Homo sapiens: one gene and its partners. The protein of the gene in region 2 purifies or fractionates together with the protein of the main gene of each other region. This does not show direct contact. Each region holds a gene or a part of one and is shown on either strand. Other genes may lie near its edges.

Region 1 (3,500 bases), on a different chromosome or scaffold from region 2:
AAGCCACCCCAGCCTGGGCGTGATACAATATCCTAGGGGCTAAGCCACCCCAGCCTGGGCGTGATACAATATCCTAGGGGGGTTAAGCCACCCTGGCCTGGGCGCGATACAATATCCTAGGGGTTAAGCCACCCCAGCCTGGGCACGATACAATATCCTAGAGGGCTAAGCCACCCCAGCCGGGAGGAGGCATGACATCCTAGAGGGGTGAAAGCCCAGCGTCTAGAATCAAACAGCTGTATCCAATTCCACCAGCATCAGCACTGTTCTCACACATGCTCCAGCTCCCTCAGCCCTCCCCCTCTACAGAGAAACCTGTCCTGGGAGCAGACTGTGTACTATAGCTAAGGGACAAGCACGGAGCACAGCTACGCTGCAGGGTCCCATTGTAAACGGCCAACTACCCATCCCCAGGGCCCTTGGTGCCGTCCTGCAATCCTGGCCCAATTCCTTGGTCTACTCACCCTCTCTTCACTGCCGCCAGCACCGCCTCAACCCACCACCCACCTCTCACCTGACACCCAGCTGAGTGTGACCCACACACCACCCCATCCCCCAAACTCCCTGTGTAGCTCCTACCCACTCGAGGACCAGCCTTCCAGGTGTCCTGGACCCTCCTCTCACCTGCACAGTAAGGCACTCCAGCAGCTCTCATGCTCTTAAATGATCACTGTCCCCTCCTTGCTTGATCCTCCCAAACACACTAATAGATATAGCCTTAAAAAGAAGGCCCTCCGTGAACACCCCTCTGAGCTTGCTTATGAACTCACTAGGCTCCCCTTTTTGTCTCCTGGCAATTCCTCCTGACCTCTCGACACTGGGACAAAGAGCTCAGCTCCCAACCCCTTTCTTCACTACCTAAACTCATATCCACACCACCTCGTCCAAATGCTACCCACATGCTCAGAAAGACCTCCAAATTTATACCCCCATCAGCCCCTGAGCTCTAACTCCTAACTCAATAACCTCATTGCTGCTGTAACTTCCTCCTGGATATCCAGAAAGCACAACAGTTCAAACCCCCAACTCCTGATACCCACTGCAGCCCACAGCCTGCTCCTGCAGCCTCCCACCTCAGGAGACAGCAACTCCCTCTCCTGGGCCTCCAGCCAAGAGCCTGGCTGTCAGCTTTCACTCTTCTCCCTCACACCCCATGGCCAGTCCTTCAGCCAATCCTGCTGCTGCTTCCTTCAAAACACACCTAGACACCTACCACATCTCCCACCTCCATCAGCCAGAGGCCACTCTCAGTGCTTGCCTGGATTCATTCCCTGCTCCTATTGCACCAACCTTCTCTACACAGCAGAGTGATCCTTTCATTAACATCTGAATCAGCTTATGAAACACCTCTGGTCCAACTTTCTAGCAAATAAAAAAGCTACAGTCAAAATTTTTGGCCAGGACATGGAACAATGGGAACTCATATTTCTTGTAGGATAAAGGCTCAGCTGCTTTGAAGGACCAGGTGGCCGTTTCTTACAAAGTTAAGCATTATCCCTGAGATCCAGCAAGTCCATCATTCTAGGTATTTATTTACCCAAGGGAAAAAGAAACATATCCATGAAAAGACGTGGACAAGAATATTCACAAAAGCCTTATTAAGAATAGCCAAAAATGAGCCAGGCACAGTGGCTCACACTTGTAATCCCAGCACTTTGGGAGACCGAGGTGGAAGCCCCGGAGTTCAAAACCAGTCTGAGCAACAAAGTGAAACCCTGTCTCTATAAAAATTAGCTGAATGTGATGGTATACACCTGTATTCCCAGTTACTCAAGAAGCAGAAGTGGGAGGATCGCTTGAGCCCAGGAGGTGGAGGTTGCAGTGAGCCATGATCACGCCACTGCACTCCAGCCTGGACATCAGAGCGAGAGACTGTCTCAAAAGCCAAAAATGAGCTGGGCACATTGATGCACACCTGTAGTCCCAGCTACTAGGGAGGCTGAGATGGGAGGATCACTCGAGCCCAGGAGTTGGAGGCTGCAATTCACTATGATCACACCTTTGAATAACCACTGCAATTCAGCCTGGGCAACAGAGAAATCCCTGTCTCTAAATTTTTTGTTAAAGCCAAAAAGGGGAATCCCAAATATCTACCAACAGAAGAATCGGTGAACAAATATGTAGTATGGAGAGTACCCAGCAATGAAAGAACATAGCCAGGTGGTGTGAATATGAGTTTCAGTAGTGGAGAAAGGGGTTGGGAGCTGAGCTCTGTGTCCCGGTGTTGAGAACGTAAACAGGTAAATCTCAAAAACAGTGTTGGATAAGAGAAATCAGAAACAAAAAATGACATACTAGATTATTCCATTTACATGAAGTCCCAGAACAGGCAGAACTGGATTTGTTTTCCTGAGATGGAGTCTCGCTGTATCTCCCAGGCTGGAGTACAGTGGCGCGATCTCAGCTCACTGCAACTTCCACCTCCTGGATTCAAGCAATTCTCCCTGCCTCAGCCTCCCAAGTAGCTGGGATTACAGGCGCCCACCAAACACCCAGCTAATTTTTGTATTTTTTAGTAGAGACAGGGTTTCACCATGTTGGCCAGGCTGGTCTTGAACTCCTGACCTCAGGTGATCCACCCATCTCGGCCTCCCAAAGTGCTGGGATTACAGGCATGAGCCACCGCGCCTGGCCCAGAACAGGCAGAACTTATCTGTGGTGCAGAAGTCAGGAGGCAGCAGGCTGTTGGGTAGGGTCTATAGACAGGTTAATGGTGCCTCACTGTTCCCACAATATGGCTCCAGCCCAGGTAAAAAGTTCAAGGGGAACTCTCCACACCTTCTGACTCTAGCCTGCGATAAAACAGGCCCTTGCCATGTTATCACCTGGGGTCTAGATGGGACAAAAGTGCCAGACACTGATTTTAAACAAGGGGCCTGGAGAGGATGCTGCATTAATGGAGCCAGGCCTGGTGAGCCTCTCCTCTACAAAAGCCTTCCGGCCAGGGGCAACAGCTCACATCTGTAATCCCAGCACTCTGAGAGGATCACTGGAGCCCAGAAGTTTGACACCAGCCTGGGCAACATAGCAAGACCCCCATCTCCACTAAAAAAAAAAAATCAAAAAATTAGTCAGGCATGATGGTGCACACCTGTAGTCTCAGCTACTCCGGAAGCTGAAGCAGGAGGATGACTTGAGGCTGGGAAGTCAAGGCTGCAGTGAGCTATGATTGCATCACTATAGCCCAGCCTGGGTGACAGAGCAAGACCCTTTCTCAAAAAAAAAAAAAAAAAAAAACCGTCTCAAAGCAGAGGAACTGGGGTTTCCCATTATGTTTCAGGACTACCTGAGTCACTTGCCACTTTAGGACAGGGAGCAAGGGGAAGACACTAAGCAGTCTGTCTTAAACGGACCCCAGAGTGGCTGGCTCAATGAGCTCTTGCTTCTAGGAGGTAGGTACCCCCAATAAGTCCCAGTAAGGAGGGGGCAGTCAAAATCACTCACGGCTGAGACCCCATCTCCATAAAAAGAAAAAAAAAAAATCACTCAGGGTCTTTTCA
Region 2 (3,728 bases):
TTTTTGTATTTTTAGTAGAGATGGGGTTTCACCATGTTAGCCAGGATGGTCTTGATCTCCTGACCTTGTGATCCACCCGCCTCGGCCTCCCAAAGTGCTGGGATTACAGGCCTGAGCCACCGGCGCCTGGCCGCAGCTGCATATTTTTAATTGCACTAGGGACTGGGTGTGGTGGCTTATGCCTATAATCCCACCTCTTTGGTAGTCCAAGATGGGAGGGTCACTTTAGGCCAGATGTTCCGAGACCAGCCTGGGCAACATAGTGAGACTCTGTCTCTACAAAAAATAAAACTTAAAAAAATTGCACTGGTATGTTAATTTCATATGGTATGTGGGTTTATTGTTTCACATAGAGATTAAAATGGCTTCCAGAGGAAAGACAGAGACAAGCAAATTAAAGCAGAATTTAGAAGAACAGTTGGATAGACTCATGCAACAATTACAAGATCTGGAGGAATGCAGGTAAGAGTTTAATTGTATGTTGTTATGCTGGAAACTGGCGTTTTTTCTGCAGCTAGCTCCGTGGATGCAGGCCCATGTGTGATGATTCTGCATTCCCCTGTAGTGTTCTTTGCAGTGCTTTGTCTATTAGAGAAGTAAACTTATTGCAGGCTTTGGAGTCATAAAGGCTGGGAAATGAAAGTCATTCAGTTAACTACTAAGTGCATGTGAACTTGAGCAAAATACTTACCTTCCTTGAAGTAGAAATAACACCTACTTTGTCTTTAGTATTTAAATCAGTCCTACCTGCTGTCAGGCTAAGAAGGTACTACTTGAACTTCTGGCATGTAGTTTCAGCCTTACCTGCACAAAGGACCACAACAGTTCATTGCAGCTTTTTTTTTTTTTTTTGAGACAGAGTCTTGCTGTATTGCCCAGGCTGGAGTGCAGTGGCGAGATCTCAGCCCACTGCAACTTCTGCTTCCCAAGTTCAAGCGATTCTCCTGCCTCAGCCTCCCGAGTAGCTGGGATTACAGGCATGCACCACCATGCCCGGCTAATTTTGTATTTTTAGTAGAGACGGGGTTTTACCATGTTGGCTAGGCTGGCCTCGAACTCCTGACCTCAGGTGATCTGCCCATCTCAGCCTTCCAAAGTGCTGGGATTACAGGTGTGAGCTACGGCACCCTGCTTTATTATGTGGTTTCTTAAGTATCCTCATTTTGGTAAAAGAAAAATGTTTACCAAAGTAACTATATTGCAGGAAAATGCCCTCACTACTACTATGTGAACACATTCACCATCAGCATTTTGATATTTCCCTTCAGTCTTTCTCTAATGTACAAGTATTAAGATTGCATTTTTCACTTGGAACTCTTCATTTTTCCATATCATGATGTTCACCTATTTCAGAGAGGAACTTGATACAGATGAATATGAAGAAACCAAAAAGGAAACTCTGGAGCAACTAAGTGAATTTAATGATTCACTAAAGAAAATTATGTCTGGAAATATGACTTTGGTAGATGAACTAAGTGGAATGCAGCTGGTAAGTATAACATATAGGCGACAGAGGACAGACTTTGTTTTTTTGTTTGTTCTTGTTTTTGTTTGAGATGCATTCTTACTCTGTCGCCCAGGCTGGAGTGCAGTGGGGCAGTCTTGGCTCACTGCAACCTCCGCCTCCCAGGTTCAAGCGATTCTCCTTACTCAGCCTCCTGAGGAGCTGGGATTACAGGCATGTGCCACCATACCCAGCTAATTTTGTATTTTTAGTAGAGACGGGGTTTCTCCATGTTGGTCAGGCTGGTCTTGAACTCCCAACCTCAGGTATCTGTCTGCCTCGGCCTCCCAAAGTGCTGGGATTACAAGCGTGAGCCACTGTGCCTGGCCTTTAGTTTTTTTTTTTTAGAGATGGGGTCTTGCTACATTTCCAAGGCTGGTCTCAAACTCATGGGCTCAAGCAATCCTCCTGCCTTGGCCTCCCAAGGTGTAACTTCTAGATGAGTGTCTGTTTATGCATACACAACATATCCTTCCAGATCTTCATTTAGTTGTGTAATTGCTTCCATGACAGGAACCAGTAAACCTTGATAAAAATTAAGGATCCGTCAATCAGTTATTGCAATATCTGATTTGTTGGACTATTTTGGTTAGTTTTTGCCTTCTTGTGTTTCTAGGCTATTCAGGCAGCTATCAGCCAGGCCTTTAAAACCCCAGAGGTCATCAGATTGTTTGCAAAGAAACAACCAGGTCAGCTTCGGACAAGGTTAGCAGAGGTAAAATTTCTTTAAATTGATTTGGTTGCTGTGTGTTTTTCATTTCCTAGGCCAATTCATTATGATATCCTATGGCTTAAAAATTTGCCAGGTGATTTTAGAGCCACAACTAACAATTTTCTGACAAAATTAGTACTTTGAGCAATTATAGTTGATAATGAATGTAGAGCTTTAAACAATATACGGCAGTTTAAATTGCCACTGACCACTTCTACCTGGACTCCACCTTTAATGTTTTACCATTTACTTCTGGAGCTCTAACTTAAAATCACATTGAGAATTAATTAGCAGCATTGCTTGTATGCATGTGTAGCCTATCTCATCTAAGAATTTCAAGTATCTTTGTAAACCTGATACTTCCAGAAGTCTGTTTATAGGCTTGGATGTAATTAAGAGTTACCAAATTATTTGTAAGTATGGGCAATTCAGTAGCATAGTGATTCAGAGCATGGACTTTGGTCAGACTGGCTGGATTTGAATTCCTGCTTCACTACTGAGGTATGTGACAAGTTTTTTATGTTTTTTTTTTTTTTTGAGATGGGGTCTTGTTCTGTTGCCCAGGCTGGAGGGCAGTGGCGCAATCTCGGTTCAGTACAACCTCTGCCTCTGGGTTCAAGTGATTCTCTTGCCTCAGCCTCCTGAGTAGCTGGGACTACAGCAGGCACATGCCACCACGCCTGGCTAATTTTTGTATTTTTAGTAGAAATGGGGTTTACCATGTTGTCAAGGCTGGTCTTGAACTCCTAACCTCAAGTGATCTGCCCGCCTCAGCCTCCCAAAGTGTTGGGATTATAGATGGGAGCCACTGCGCCTAGCCTTTTGTTTGTTTTTTGTTTTTTTGTTGTTGTTGTTGTTTTTGAGGCAGGGTCTTACTTTGTCACCCAGGCTCAGTGTAGTAATGCAATCTCGGCTCACTGTAGCCTCTGTCTCCTGGGCTCAAGCGTCTCCCATCTCAGCCCCTCAAGTATCTGGGCCCACAGGCACAACACCACCACACCCCACTAATTTTTGTATTTTTCATAGAGACAGGGTTTCACCATGTTGGCCAGGATAGTCTTGAACTCCTGAGCTCAAGCAATCCACCCACCTCAGCCTTCCAAAGTGGTGGGATTACAGGCATGAGCCACTGTACCTGGCCTGGACAACTTATTTTATTCATCCCCTTTGTGCCTAGGTTTCTCTGTCTGTAAAAACATGACAAAGATAGTCCTTACCTCTTATGGTTCTTATGAGGATTAAATGAAGTAATATGTGTAAAAGTACTTTGAATATTCCCAATGTGTGGTACATGCTATTAGTGTTTCTGGTGGAAGAGGTGATATTTTACTAGATGATTTACTAGAACTGCATTTAACATTTCTATCATATTTGCCTTGGATTATATCTGTAGTTCTTTATAATATTAATCAGCTAGAGGATTTTTTTTTAAGAAGTACGTCTGAAAAGCTATATGTATGTGTATATATATATATATATATTTTTTTTTTTTTTTTTTTTTTTTTTTTTTGT
Region 3 (3,728 bases), on a different chromosome or scaffold from region 2:
CATATGCTGCTGAGGTGATGGATGGTAACAAATTGGAAGGGGAAAGAAGTTCTTTTGCTACTTAGAGTTTAGGAAGTAATGGAATTTCTCTTGTTGGGGCTCTGATGTGTGGAAAGATGAAAGGTAGGGACAGGGCTTCTGGCATGCTGAATTTCAGCTAGGAAAACAGAAATAATGAAAAATTATAATTATTATAGGCCATTTGCAAACGTAACTACTTTGACAATTAATTCTCTGGGCAAATGTGTTCTAATTCTGATTTATAAACATTTGAAATGTGATTCATTTGTTAGATGGGAACTATGTATGGCAAATCAGTGTTGATAAATACATTTGATTCCCTGTGACTGGTGTTAATCTTTCTTGTAGTGCCTTTCACTATTGAATCCAATCCTCATTGTCTCTTGACTCTTTTTCTGTTCTTAGCTGCTGCTAGAAAATAAAACTCCTACTATCCTTTCCTCCTTCAGAACACTTTGTGAATTTTTTCCTTCACACCAGATTACGTAGCCTTGGTCATGTTACTTAGAAATTATCTTTTCTCTTTAGCAATCTTTTATCACCTCAAGGCAGCTCTTGATGTCACTAAAAGGTGGCTTTTACCTGTTGTTTTGACCTTAGTACTTAAAGACTGTTGGTATCATGATTCTGAATATTCTTTAATATAGTTATTGTCAAAGTCCCAAAACCAGTCCTTGCTGTAGTAAGCTGCCTTTACTGATGGAGTTATGTTCTTCAGATGTATTGTAGCAGAAAAAATGCTGAGAGCTCCTTTTTAAAAATTGAGATATAAGTCACATACCATAAAATTCACCCTTTTAAAAGTATGTGATCAGTATAGTGTTTTTTAGTAGATCGACGAGGCTGTGCAACCACCATCACTGTCTAATCCTAGGACATTTTCATGACCCCAAAAAGAAACCCATTAAGCAGTCAGTCCCATTCCCCTCTCTCCCCAGCCGTTGACAAGCACTAATCTACTTTCTGTCTCAGTGGATTTGCCTGTTCTGGACATTTCATATAAATGGACTAATTCAACATGTGGCCTTTTGTGTTTGTGTTTCTTTATTTAATGTAATGTTTTCAAGGTTCATCCATGTGGTACATGTATCAGTACTTCATACCTTTCTATGGCTGGATCATATTGCATTGTATAGATATACCACATTTTGTTTATATATTCATCAATTGGGCGTTTGGGTTGTTTCCACTTTTTGGCTAAAATGAATAATGCTTCGATAAGCAATTATGTGTGACTTGTTAGGTGGATGTATGTTTTCAGTATATACCTGGGAGTGGAATTTCTGGATCATATCCAAAGCAGCTGAGAACCAATTTTGAGTGACTTTACATTGACTTTGGTTTAGGACCAAGTTCTTTGTTCTTTGTGTACAAGACCTGACTAGTCTATTTTATTCCAGGACAGTGCTCACACCATAATCTATTGCAGTAATTCTGAAACAGAGATTCATACAGCTGCTCTCCTCCATCAACTTAGACCACTCTGACCTTTTCCTCAGGCAGCACCTTGTGCTGGAATTTTTTTTGTCTCAGGCAGCACCTTGTGCTGGAAATGCTTTTTTCTCAGTTGAAATGTACTGACAGCCTCAGAAAAAAATCCTAACTACGTATCTTAACATACAACTCCAATAAGTCCCACTTTACCCGTCACCCTGCAAAACATAGTCATTCACTGATATATTATGTAACTACTTCAGTGTATATGTGGTTAATGCTTATGTGTCCTTTGGGTCTTTCAGGTGAATGTTTATGGGTTAAAATTATAGATTTCCTTTAGGGCAATGATTGTGTTCTCCCCAGCTCTTGGCATATTGCCAAATTTTGACAGGTATTTTGTACTTTTGTGTATGTGTGTGTGTGTGTATCTGAAATTCATGTTTGAAAATCTTTTTTCTAAACTTGCTAACATTAAAAGCTTGAGGCATATTACGGGAAGAGTAGAAAAGTAATACCTGTGAAAATACCAGGAGAAGCAAAATTTGATGGGTTTCCTATGTTTTTACCCAGAATGGCACTGAACAATACCAAAATCAATCCAAAGGCAAGAGCAAGCTCGGTAGTTGGCTGAATCGAAATGGAAGGCCAAGGTATTTGAAAATTGAGCCACTAGAAATAATATTTTTTTGAAATATACTTTGAAAATGAACCCTTTAAAATGTGGATCAAATCTGTATTTCTAAAATTAAGGAAAACGTAATTAGTTTCTGAATCACAGTTGGCATTTAATTTTGCCTAAAATCACTGGTCTGTATAGCATGATCGTTTTATTTGAAATTTACCTTTTGTTACATGAGTAAAAAATTATTTAGACTAACTTCTATTCAAGGTAACTCAGTTACTCATCTCACTAGACAAGTTCTTTAAAGTCTATAACTTTATTGTAATCCATGAATTCTAACAAATAATCATCCTACAGAGAGGAATTTTTACATCATGATGAAGGGCCTACTCTGGGTGTTTCTAGACATTTGAATCTATAGGTTGTTTAGAGGACTAAAGGGATTGAATAAAAAGAAAACTTGTCAAGTCGTGCTAATGTAGTTTATATTAAACAAGTCATATTTTTGAGGAAAGAAGGAGTAGGTTTTTTTTGTTTTTCGGTTTTTTTTTTGAGACGGAGTCTCGCTCTGTTGCCCAGGCTGGAGTGCAATGGCGCGATCTCCGCTCACTGCTAGCTCCGCTTCCCGGGTTCACGCCATTCTCCTGCCTCAGCCTCCCGAGTAGCTGGGACTACAGGCGCCCGCCACCACACCCGGCTAGTTTTTTATATTTTTAGTAGAGACAGGGTTTCACCGTGTTAGCCAAGATGGTCTCGATCTCCTGGCCTCGTGATCCGCCTGCCTCAGCCTCCCAAGTGCTGGGATTACAGGCGTGAGCCACCGCGCCCGGCCGGGAGTAGGTATTACCTTTTTTTTTGAGCCAGAGTTTTGCTCTTGTTGCCCACGCTAGGGTGCGATGGCACGATCTTGGCTCACTGTAACCTCCGCCTCCTTGGTTCAAGAGATTCTCCTGCCTCAGCCTGCCGAGTAGCTGAGATTACAGGCATGTGCCACCAGCCTGGCAGATTTTGTATTTTTAGTAGAGATGGGGTTTCACCATGTTGGTCAGGCTGGCCACAAACTTCTGACCTTAGGGATCCGCCTGCCTCGGCCTCCCAAAGTGCTGGGATTACAGGCGTGAGCCACCGCGCCCGGCTAAAAGACTCCCTTTTTTTTTTTTTTCGAGACGGAGTCTCGCTATGTCACCCAGCCTGGAGTGCAGTGGCACGATCTCGGCTCACTGCTAGCTCCGTCTCCTGGGTTCACGCCATTCTCCTGCCTCAGCCTCCCGAGTAGCTGGGACTACAGGCGCCCGCCACTACGCCCGGCTAATTTTTTTGTACTTTTAGTAGAGACGGGGTTTCATCGTGTTAGCCAGGATGGTCTTGATCTCCTGACCTCGTGATCCGCCCACCTGGGCCCCCCAAAGTGCTGGGATTACTGGCGTGAGCCACCGCTCCCAGCCAAGACTCCCTTTAAGTAAATGAGTCTCCTAATGTTTTATTATGTGACTTTCTTTGCAAAAATTAAGTTTATACCTAATTTCCAAGAAAATGTCAGACAGAAAGCAAGACATACTTGTAATTTATTTTTTAATGCTGACTTAATGTTGATTTTTTAAAGTGTAAAATTAAATTATTTAAATATTTGGCATTTCATTATGGTTTG

The links.
Region 1: the proteins of LZIC (region 2) and GINS2 purify together in Homo sapiens (affinity purification with mass spectrometry; one large-scale study listed by BioGRID and IntAct). This does not show direct contact.
Region 3: the proteins of LZIC (region 2) and CDK8 purify together in Homo sapiens (affinity purification with mass spectrometry; one large-scale study listed by BioGRID and IntAct). This does not show direct contact.

Annotation. Positions count from the first base shown.
Region 1 is NC_000016.10:85,682,455-85,685,954, forward strand, and holds part of GINS2 (DNA replication complex GINS protein PSF2), read right to left. Parts: intron 1-3,500. UniProt on the Homo sapiens protein: Required for correct functioning of the GINS complex, a complex that plays an essential role in the initiation of DNA replication, and progression of DNA replication forks.
Region 2 is NC_000001.11:9,933,253-9,936,980, reverse strand, and holds part of LZIC (protein LZIC), read left to right. Parts: intron 1-353; coding exon of another isoform or gene 354-361; coding exon 362-462; intron 463-1,353; coding exon 1,354-1,489; intron 1,490-2,120; coding exon 2,121-2,219; intron 2,220-3,728.
Region 3 is NC_000013.11:26,260,522-26,264,249, forward strand, and holds part of CDK8 (cyclin-dependent kinase 8), read left to right. Parts: intron 1-3,728.